3 linked regions of the Homo sapiens genome follow. The protein of the gene in region 3 purifies or fractionates together with the protein of the main gene of each other region. This does not show direct contact. Each region holds a gene or a part of one and is shown on either strand. Other genes may lie near its edges.

Region 1 (3,746 bases), on a different chromosome or scaffold from region 3:
TCCCAGTCCCATCTCCACCCCTCCCCATCATGTCCTCCCATACTATAGTCAGTCCACACCCGCCCCAGGACCCACTCACCAATCCTCAGAAAAACAACTATGCTGAACATGGACAGGACAGTGGGCACCACCACACCCAGGAAGGTGGACAGCTTCCGGGCAGACGCCCCTCCAGGACCCCCGGCCCCATTGGCAGGGAGGGCAACCCCCTCCTCCCCCAGGAGCCGGTAGGCCAGCAGAGGTGAGCTCTCGCTGGCCATGGCTGAGCACAGGTAGAGGAAGCCACAAATGGGTTAGGTGACCTGCAAAGGAGATTATGTTGCATCAAAAGCTCCCCCACAGAGCTCGCCCACCCCCAAAGACCACTAATCAAACACCCTGAAGCCTCCCCAAAAGACAGAGCTGCTCTCTACTAAAAATACAAAAATTGGCCAGGCTCGGTGGTTCATGCCTGTAATCCCAGCACTTTGGGAGGACGAGGCAGGTGGATCACCTGAGGTCAGGAGTTCGAGACCACCCTGGTCAACATGGTGAAACCCCGTCTCTACTAAAAATACAAAAAGTAGCTGGGCATGGTGGCTCATGCCTGTAGTCCCAGCTACTTGGGAGGCTGAGGCAGGAGAATCCCTTGAACCCAGGAGGCAGAGGTTGCAGTGAGCCGACATCACACCACTGCACTCCAGCCTGGGTGACAGAGTGAGACTCCGTCTCACAAGAAAAAAAAAAAAATTAGCCAAGCGTGAAGGTGCATGCCTGTAATCACAGCTACTTGGGAGGCTGAGACACGAGAATCGCTTGAGTCCTGGAGGCGTAGGGCTGCAGCGAGCCGAGATCATGCCACTGCACTCCAGCCTGGGTGACAGAGCGAGACCCTGTGTCAATAAAAAAAAAAAAAGAGACAACCGCAAGGAAACAGGAACGCACCCACACCCTGCTTACCGGCAACTCAAAAAAGTCCGTGGGCTGCAAATGGTACCAGCCACTGCCCCACAAAAAAGTGGTACCCCAAACCTGTCAGCAGGGGTTTCAAGGCCCCTCCCGGCTCCTGGGGGCCACCCCTTCCCTTATGTTCCTGAGACTAGGGATGGCACCGGTTCTGGAAAGGGGCAAAGGTTCTCTGACGGCACAGGCTTCTCCAGCCTCTCCTTCCTTAACTAGCAATGCAAGAGGAACCAAATCTCCCAAAAGGGAAGTAAGTTACGGGCAGGAGAGCCTTCCCCATCCTCTCCTTCGGTGTCCTGAGCTGCCCCTACCAAGCCCCCCAATGCAATCACCGCACCCACAGGTAACAAGAAACTTCCAACTCTTTCAAAACCCCACCCTCCGTCAATCCTCTCCCTCAACCCATCTCAAACCCCCTCCTCCTCGCCTTAGCCTCCCCGATTCCTCCCATCCACACGAGGCACCCCTCCCCACAAACTCTACCAACCCAAACACACCCTAGCGAAACAGAAACACAGACCGGCTCCCACCGAGCGACACAAGGTCCCCGGGTCCTCCTCCTCCCCCAATCCGGGCTCCTGCCCCTTTGCGCCCGTTGGGGTGCAAGGGAGCCAAGATATCCTTCTCCCCGGCCAGGTGCACCCCACAGCTCGGGGGCCGCGAGGCGCTCACTCACCCACCCGCAGGACGCAGCGCTCGGGGGCGATCCCCGCGAGCCGGGGGGCTCCGCTCGGGCGGAGAGTGCACGGGGGCCGGAAAAGACAGCTGCGGCTACCGGGATGCCAGGCCTGGAGCCTGTCCCCACCCCCACCAGCACGCGCGCGCTATTGGTCCCCGTCCTCGGCCCCGCCCCATGGCGCGCCCGGAGAAGCCCGACCCTCTCTGCTCTTCCCCAGCCTGCGCTGCTCCAGCTCCACGTGCGCCCGGGGATGCAATGCAGCCCTGCAGACAAGCGTCTCCGGCAGGACGTGGGCCGCGGGTCTCGGAGCCTCCTTCACTTAGGTACAAACAATCGTCGCCGCAGGGGCCGGACCCCAGTCCGAGCTCCGAGGTGCGGTGAGCAGCCACCCCACTAAAGGGGGCGTGTGAGGATGGCGGAAAGCGGCAGGGAGGTGGGCGGGGCTGCAACACCTGGGCCAGGTGCGTCACGGGAAATCCGGCCCACTTCGTTCAGGGACTTCTGGAGTTCTAGTCCTCCAACCTCTCAAAACCCTAGAACCTCCACCGGGTCCCAGCCTCGCCCCTCACCCGCTGCGGGGATCCTCCCTTCGCGCCCGATCCAGCTGCGCTCTTCGCTTCCGCCACCGGAGGGAGCCATTGGCCGCCGATCTGGGCCCAGGGTCGCTTTGCACCGTCTGATGCCCGCTTTCTTGCCTCCCTGCAGTGTTCTCACTTCCAGCAGAAATCCTAGAGCCTATGAACTCTACTGAGAGCTGAGACTCCTTCTTCACTCTTTACAGATCCCATGAACAGCAGTACCACCTGCCAACGCGTCCTCATATGTAAAATGGGCATAAACTCGAACCTCCCTCCTAAGGCTGTGAGTTCAGTGAGCATTTAATGGGCACTTTAGAACAACGCCTAAAGGTTTGATAAATTATCCCTTGCAAATAGCACTGCATTAAATTAGCCACTCTGTGAGGTAGGTACCGCTATTTCAATTTTTCAGATTAGGAAATTGGAGCTTGGAAAGTTTCAGATACATTTCCTTTTTTTTTTTTTTTTTTTTTTGATCCAGGAACTATTACACAGGCTGGAGTGCAGTGGCGCGATCTCGTGTCACTACAACCTCTGCATTTCCGGCTCAAGCATCCTCCTGCCTCAGCCTCCGCAGTGCCTGGAACTACACAGGCACACACCACGCCTGGCTAATTTTTAAATATTTTGTAGAGACCGGGTTTCGCCATGTTGCCCAGGCCTCTCTGGAACTCCTGAACTCAAGCATGCGCCTGCAGTCCCAGCTACTTAGGAGGCTGAGGCAGGAGGATCGCTTGAACCTGGGAGGCAGAGGTTGCAGTGAGCTGAGATCGCACCACTGCACTCCAGCCAGGGCAACAGAACGAGACTCTGTCTCAAAAAAAAAAAAAAAACTTTTTCAGGGTCAGTTAGTTATAAGCACTCCCTTGGCATACCCTGGCCTGTCCGTCACTGAACTCTGCTTCCATAAATCTCAACCTCCACCTTACCTTGTTAGTCTGTGGTTTTGCCTTGGACCTTGTCTTCATCAATGACTGCAGCCCCTCCTCTTCAGTTCACCTCTTCTACTGCGCTTATTAAAGAAAAAAATCTGACTCTTGTTAAAACAGTAAGTCAGACTTTATTCAGGACTATTTTGATTGGCACCAAGAAGGTGGCAAGGAGCTGGGTGCAGTGGGTCACGCCTGTAATCTCAGGACTTTGGAAGGCTGAGGCAGGAGGATCACTTGAGCCCAAGAGCTCCAGACCAGCCTGGGCAATAAAGTGGGACCTCATCTCTACAAAATTTTTTTTAAAAATTGGGCCAGGCACGGTGGCTCACGCCTGTAATCCCAGCACTTTGGGAGGCCGAGGTGGGTGGATCACGAGGTCAGGAGATTGTGACCATCCTGGCCAACATGGTGATACCCCATCTCTACTAAAAATACAAAAATTAGTTGGGCGTGGTGGCACGCACCTGTAATCCCAGCTACTTGGGAGGCTGAGGCAGGAGAATAGCTTGAACACGGGAGGCGGAGGTTGTGGTGAGCTGAGATCTCGCCATTACACTCCAGCCTGGGCAACAAGAGCAAAACTCCATCTCAAAAAAAAAAAAAAGAAGAAGAAGA
Region 2 (3,746 bases), on a different chromosome or scaffold from region 3:
CTTGCAGAATAAGGCCCTCCACAGGAGGGTTGTGACCTTGGTACTTGCCTCACTGTGTTTAAATTCAGGTAAGGTAAGAGAATTGAAGAGGTAAAGCTACCTTAGAGAGTATTGCTGCATCTACCCTGGTGACTTACAAGGTACTTGAATTTTTTTTTTTCTAGCAAACTGCTAAAGTTAGCCTTTGCCTTTTTCCCAGAGACTCTCTAGGAATTTTTCCCATCTGCTGACTAGGAGGTAAGCCCGGACCTAAATTTTTGTCTTGTTGTAGGTTAATTAAGACTGGTGTTAGATTCAGCTCCTAAGGCCTAAGAGAATTTAAGGTTGTCTTCTGGGAAGGACACCCAACAGCAGCATTGGAATTGGAAAAAAAGTGTAGGATTTTGCTGAGTGAGCAGGGGGAAAGCAATGTAAAGCCCAAGAGAATATCTTTTGAACAAACGTCCTTTTCATTTTGGTTTAGAAATAGAAACGTGGTAAAAGGAGGCGACTGTTTTCTGAAGGCTTGTAGCACGAAAACAGGCCAACTGGCCAGCAACTAGTTGTCTATCAGTTTCTCTACTCACATACATCTGCCTTTTCCAGACTGCCAGCGCGGAGCACTAGTTTGACTTTGGGTGCTCTTCAAATAGCTGGCATTGATAAGGCATTCCCAGAAGACTGTGTTACTTAGTAATCTTGTCGGTACATTTTTTCACTGGGCAGAGATTTTCCAAACAGAGAGCTGCCAGCTTTCAAGACGTCAGAGTGCTTTTTCATCCTGAAATTGGGTGGGAAAATGGGGAGAAGAAAAGCACGGTTCAGATCAATCAATGAGAGAGAACCCCTCCCTCCATACTCGTTAAACAACAGGTGGTTTTGCTGTGCACCGTCAACTCCTTTATGCGGGAGCTGTAGGCGGGGCATTCCAACTGAGTCTCCCTGGAATCTGCCCCTTAGCCCGTATTGCAGGGGCGGTGCAGTTGGGGATTCCGGCCTGAAAGGAGACTTGGTTGTCAAGGGGCTCAAGGGCTTCATGATCCAAGGATATTGGGTTTTGCTTTTCTCCTTCTCCATCTTCCTCATTCTATCCCACCGTCCCCTCCCCACCCTTCTCTTAGGAGGCCTTCGCTTCTCCTGTGGAGGGGTTATCTTCATCCTGACCCTGGCCTTCGGAGGAGTTCCCAGAAGGGCTATTTTTAGTGGTGGCTGCTCCCCTCTAACTTACCCAGGGGAGGAGCTGCGGTGGCTGAGCCGACGCTGCGCGCACAGCCGCCTGTGGTTTTCCGCGCATTGTGAGGGATGAGGGGTGGAGGTGGTATTAGACGCAGCCGAATCCTCCCTCAGAGTCCGCCAGGTGGGCGTCTCAGGGGTGGGAGTGGCCGCGTCGTGAAGCGGAGAGAGGATTTCTCTCCTGGTCCTGGAGAAGGCCCCCGGCGGCCGGCGGCATCCCTCGCTGGCGAGTCCCGGGAGCGAGGTGGTCTCTGCAGGGGAGGAAGTTCCCGGGCGGCGCGGCCTGCGTCACAGCGGGGCTGGCACCGCGGAGTCGACTCGGCGGGCGGTGGCGACCCCGGGGCCGGGCGCTGGGCGGCGCTGGCTGCCGCTAGCCGGGCTGCGTGCGGGGCGGCGCTGGAGGCGGCTCCGTCCGCGGCCGGGGAGGCGGAGGGGAGGAGGGCTTGCGGGGCTGGGGCGTTAGCTGCGTCCCGGCTGGAAGCCCGCGAAGAGAAGTAGGAGGAAGGCGCCGCCGTGGCCGCGGCCGCAGTGCTCGGGCGCGACAAGCCATGAGCAGCGACCCCGCGGGCGACGCCGCCGTCCCTGGCAGCCGCTGAGCCCGACCCCCAGGCAGCTCGCCGCTCCCTAGCACCTTCTCCAGTCGACACTCTCGCGCCCGGAGGTAAGGGCGGGGGATCCGCGGAGGGATGGAGAGGGGCAGCCCGCAGAGGGCCACCCGCTCGGTCCGCTGTGCGCGCCGGACCGGGACTCGCCCCGCCTCACTCGCGTCCTTGCTTCCCCCCGGCTCTCAGACAGGCAGAATGTGGTTGCCCGCCCGGCGTGTGGTGCTGGGAACCTTCCGCTACTGCGGCTCAGGAGCCCGCCAACCCCTACCCCACCCAATCCGCGCTAGCCCGAGCGGCCGCGCGAGGATCTCAGCCTGGCGCCCAACGCCGCGCCGCAGCGGCAGGTCCTGCAGACTGGGCGCGGGGGTGGGGGGGCGGTCCGCGAGGGGAAATGCGTCCGTGGCCGGGGCGATCGTTGTTCTTTCCTACCTCGAAAATCTCTGAGACCCCGGGGCCAGTCCTTTCCGGTCTATCACCCCCCTGCCACCTCCGAACCCTTGAAGTTAGCACTTTTGGGCAGGGAAAGGAATTGGAAGGTTTCTCGAAGAAACGTGAGAGCACCGTGTGCTCACCTGCAGGACAGGAGGGAAGGGGTTCAGCTTGATCGGGCGGGCCCCAGAAGCCAGGTGTTTAGGCCAGCGGTTGAGGCCAAAACCGCTGCCTTCATCCCACGCCTAGGCTCGCTGATCTTTCCCTTTCCAGCTGGTTCCCACCAATGAGATGATTAGGGATGGAGTTAGCAACTCAGGAGCCTTAGATGTGTTCTGTGGACACGAATGCCTTTCTTTTCTCCCTCAGCCGGTTCTTCCCTCCCCAACCCCCACGCCTGCCCGGTATACAGCAAAGTCCAAACAGTTTCTTCCAAACCTCGCATCCTCCGTAGTTTTGCAACAGCCGGACACCTAGCCCGCATCCTAATGCGGATATTTCAGAGTATTACGGCTAAACTTCCCTTGGTTTCAAATTCCTTAAACATGTTAAAGCCTCAGCAAACGTTAGGAAACATTTTCAGGTTCCCATCCTCAAAGTAAAAAATAAGAACCAATCCATCTTTGTTGGAGTGCCGGTGTTTGGCACGGGGAGGCTTGAATTACCTCCATTTAAAGCAGCCTTTGAAGGAAGGAATAGGTAAAGGAAATCGCAGCCGTTTGTAAGTCACATACTTCTTTCGCGGTAGTGTGAGAAACGTAGCCTTAACCAACAGTCACATTTCCCGACAGGTATGTGATGGTTTCCCAAAGCATCGATGAGGCTTCAGCGTGGGCAGGTCATTAAGATGCCATTTAGACGAAAAAGGAGTAAAAGTGGAGTAGTCCTCTTGGTTAGCACAATGCTGCAAAATCGCCAGAGCCAATAATTTTTATACATTTATAAATTCTGTTTATTTTTAAATAATTTGTTGAAAACCCAAAACGTAATCTGAGCTGCATAAAACTCGCTCAATTCATAAACAATGTGTTGAGTGTGTAAACAAACATTAAATGTATACAGCTCTAGTCTAGGATATTTGCATTTCTTGTGACTTGCTTTAACAGGGAAGGCCAAGGCTATAATTGGTTTGCTTTACTCTGGAGTGATTAAGTTCTGTCTTGGGGTCAGTTTGTTTCCTTTGAGGGGGATGTAGGGCAGTTTTGCAAAGATGGATATTTGCCATGGTTCACATAATAGATTGGGCACAGACAGGACCCATCAACCCAACAATTGTATCAGAGATACCAAGTATATTTAACAATTTTCTTATTAATAAAATCAAGCCTTTATTAATAGTACTAATCTATTATTTCTCAGATTAAGCACTTTAATGAAATGTATTTTTAAAAGGGAATGCTTTTAGTGAAAATAATGCATTAGGAGCTGTAAGATAAATGAATGAAAATGTTGCACTTTATTTCCATGAAGTTTATCTTTTAAAAAACAATACAAAGTTAG
Region 3 (3,746 bases):
ACACTCTACGGTTGTCACTCTTTGGTGGCTTGCCTGGGTGGCCGAAATCCTCGCCTAAGGAGCTGACATATGCTGCAGCAGCGCCATTCTCTTCTGCTGTCTTCCTTTGCTATGGAAGCTTTTCAGTGAGGTTTTGATCCCCTTTTATGGTGACACAAGTGAGTTTGTTCCTTGGTTTCCTTTGTTCATTTATTCATCCTTACTTTCTTGCTTCCTTCTTTCCTTCTTTTCCCCCTTCCATACATATTTATTCAGAGTCTTGAATAAAGCTCCTGTCTTCCAGCTTTAGGTTGTCAGATAATAGGTGCAATTGTTTTTTTAATTGGTGCTGGTCTTTGGTAATTTGTATACACGCATGTATACCTAGGCATTCATTAAGAGCAAGGCTCAGGAGTGCTGATATCCCATTGGCCAGGACTTATCACTTGCCTATGCCTAGCAGCCAGGGAAGTAGAGAAATGTTGATTTTTTTCTCTGCAGTCATGTGTCCAGTTAAAATCTAGCACCATTAAGGAAGAGAAGAAAGCAGATACTGGAGAACAGACTGCCACACTGGATTTCCCAGGTCTTTGTTCATTCTCATCTTTATCTGCTTCTCAATACCCTTTGCATCCCTCAAAATTCAGCTCAAATGTCATCTCCTTCGAGAGGTCTGCTGCCCAAAGAGAACCAATCTTTCTCTCTCCTCTGTTACTGTTCCACAATAGCACCTATCACATTGACTTGCAGCCAGTTATTTATGTGCCTGTGACTTCCACTAAATTGTGAAATCCTCAAAGACAAAGACCAGATTGTGCCCATCTCTGCATTCCCAGATCTCCAGAAACATGAGAGATGCTCCAGAAATATTTGTTTAGCCAATAAACCTCCAGAAATAATGGAAGGATATCTCCCCCAAATGAACAAGGTGTACCTTAGAGATCTTTTTCATCTTCCCCCTTTGCCTAATAGAGGCACCCCTATTGCCTGATATAACTCACTTTAGAAGAGAGGTTAAAGATGAAACTCTGAGTTTTCTGGGCAGGGGTCGGGTTGGGGGAAGGATAAAGCCCATACTGGATTCTAATCTTCTTCCAGATGTGGCCTCACATCTGAAATACACTCCCTGTCCTCAGGCATCATCAATGACATGCCATCAGTTCTAACAAGTTCTCATGGAATGCAGTCTTTTTACCCTGCAGGGGCAGAGCACTAGGCTAGGTACAGCCACAAGGGTACAAAGGCACCAAGCAGCAATAGTAAGGCTCCTAACCCCTTAAGTTGTGAAACCAAGCCTGTGGTCATGGGCAAGTCAAGAGCAGTTAATGACTTAAGACTTAAGACTTAAGAATATTCATAAAATTAAAGCAAATAATTCGGATTTCTGGCTGCAGCCACAGTAACCCACTCTAGCCAACAGAAGGGGGAAAAAAGGTCTTTATTTAAAAAAATACAAGGATTTCTTATGAAACTCAAGGAAAGACATGCACCTAAGCCTCAGGTAGTGCTAGAAACAAGAACATGTCCTACTAGGACATTTTATGTGATTTCAAGTTTATTTTCTCTATAGCCAATTGGGACCCATGCTTTTCAAAGTCTGAGTTACGTGATAAAAAAAAATTTTTTTTAGTTCCTTCAGGGAGGAGTGTGTTAGTTTTGTTAATAATGCCTGATAATTGTCCCCATCCAAGGCATGATTTACACGCAATTCCATTTCCAAATTCCCAGGGAAGGAGTTTGATTGGCTCAGCTTGAGTCAGGTGTTCACTCTAGGACCATCAGCTGGATAGGGTGCATGGGATCTCATTGTCTAAAGAAACAAGCTGTTATTGTCACCTACGGTTAGAGAGGTCCGGGAAAGGGTCATGCTAGGAGAGTCCACTACCATCTACCCAAAGCTGTAGTAATAGGGTGGCAACATGGTGTTGTGCTAAGAACATAGAATTTTAGTTCCGCCACTTGATCGCTATGTAGCCTTAAGCTCGCCACTCAACCCTTCTGAGCACCAGTTTCCTTAGCTATAAAATACAGAAAAGAATAATCTACCTTGTGGTGTTGTGAACATTATATAAGAGAACACTGGTAAAGTGTCTAGCAGAGTCTGGCATATGGTAGACTTGCCACTTCCTTCAAAGTCTACAAAGTGGTTAAATGTAAGCATGAATCTTCATGTAGCTAATGGGAAGGGAGAAAGGAGAATCTGTGGAGCAGCGGATCCAACAGAACTTTCTGTGATGACAGAAACGTTCTAGATCTATGTTGTACAACATGGTAGTCACAGGCCATATGTGGCTATTGAACACCCATATTGTAATTAGGTAAGGAACTGAATTTTTAATTTTATTTAATTTTAATTAATGTAAATGTAAACTTAAATAGGCAGCAGCATTCTTTTCTCTTTTTTTGAGACAGAATCTTGCTCTTTTGCCCAGGCTGGAGTGCAGTGGTGTGATCTCGGCTCACTGCAACCTCCACCCCCGAGTTCAAGTGATTCTCTTGCCTCAGCCTCCCAAGTAGCTGGGATTACAGGCACCCGCCACCATACCTGGCTAATTTTTGTATTTTTAGTAGAGATGGGGGTTTCACTCTCTTGGCCAGGCTGGTCTCGAACTCCTGACCTTAGGTGATCCACCTGCCTCAGCCTCCCAAAGTGCTGGGATTACAGGTGTGAGCCACTGCGCCGGGCCAGCAGCAGAGTTCTTAAGCAGTAGTTTCTATCTTGGCTACACATTAGAATCACTGGGGAGATGTAAATACTAATAATATCCAGTTCCTACCTAGAGAGATTCTTGTTTAATTGCTCTGGGATAAGGCCCAAGCCTAGGTGCTTTTTTTTAAAAGCTTCCCTGGGACTTCTACTCTGCAGCCTGAAATTGAGAACCACCAGTAAGGAGAAGGAGGAGGAAAAATGAGGGTTCTGGAAGTCTCAATGGGTTCCTTTTCTGAACTACTTGCATGCAGTAATTAGGCTGGCTAGTCTAGCTTTGGGTTTTACCATGCTTTAGGCAAAGTATTTCTACAGGAAGATTCATGTTAATCAGCGACACCTAACTTCAGCATAGGTGGCTTGGAGAGCCATTTTCCTTTTCCCACATGATCTCTTCTCTTCCCTTGCCAGGGTTCGTGTGAGCCAGGATGGGCAGTTTCTGCACTACATCTTTCCATACCAGTTCATGGACTCTCCTGAGTGGGAATCACTACAGCCTTCTGAGGAGGGGGTGTTCCAGGTAACAGGGAGCCTGGTGGCAGCACCGCCTCACCCCATCCCACTGTAGCCCAGCAATATCCGTGCCTCCATGTTTCCCCTCTTACATCTGTCCTTCGCACCCCTGCCAGTGTGAAGCTACAGGCGGGGGCACTCTTCCTCTGAAAAGAGTTCCTGGGCTCCTAGCCATAGGTGAGGTAGGGTAGGAAGATGCTGGCCCCTGGGTAGACCATGTTACTTGTATGCTTAAACTCTTCTGGAAGACCCTAGTGCCACAACATAAAAACCCACACTTGTTATAGGGTAACTTAAACCTTTTAGTGCTCTCTAGTCGCATTTCCAGCTCTCCCTCCTTCATATTTTTTGCTCATACTAGCCATGCTGAACCACTAGTACTTCCCTAAACACACCACATTGTTTTGCAGCTCTATGCCTTGGCCCCTACTCTCCCCTCTGAAATGCATTTCCCCTTCTAGATGAGACCACGGAACCTCACTTCCACTGTGAAGCCTGCTTCCACCCCACAGCCTCACCAGCTTCCACCCCACAGCCTAGCACTCCT

The links.
Region 1: the proteins of POPDC2 (region 3) and SLC12A9 purify together in Homo sapiens (affinity purification with mass spectrometry; 3 studies listed by BioGRID and IntAct, with this or other methods). This does not show direct contact.
Region 2: the proteins of POPDC2 (region 3) and LRRC8C purify together in Homo sapiens (affinity purification with mass spectrometry; 2 studies listed by BioGRID and IntAct, with this or other methods). This does not show direct contact.

The regions. Positions count from the first base shown.
Region 1 is NC_000007.14:100,850,712-100,854,457, reverse strand, and holds the start of SLC12A9 (solute carrier family 12 member 9), read right to left. Parts: upstream 1,746-3,746; 5' UTR 1,623-1,745; exon of another isoform or gene 1,440-1,622; intron 303-1,439; 5' UTR 261-302; coding exon 80-260; intron 1-79. UniProt on the Homo sapiens protein: May be an inhibitor of SLC12A1. Seems to correspond to a subunit of a multimeric transport system and thus, additional subunits may be required for its function. May play a role in lysosomal ion flux and osmoregulation.
Region 2 is NC_000001.11:89,631,450-89,635,195, forward strand, and holds the start of LRRC8C (volume-regulated anion channel subunit LRRC8C), read left to right. Parts: upstream 1-1,670; 5' UTR 1,671-1,873; intron 1,874-3,746. UniProt on the Homo sapiens protein: Non-essential component of the volume-regulated anion channel (VRAC, also named VSOAC channel), an anion channel required to maintain a constant cell volume in response to extracellular or intracellular osmotic changes.
Region 3 is NC_000003.12:119,653,965-119,657,710, reverse strand, and holds part of POPDC2 (popeye domain-containing protein 2), read left to right. Parts: intron 1-3,097; coding exon 3,098-3,206; intron 3,207-3,746. UniProt on the Homo sapiens protein: Important for the maintenance of cardiac function.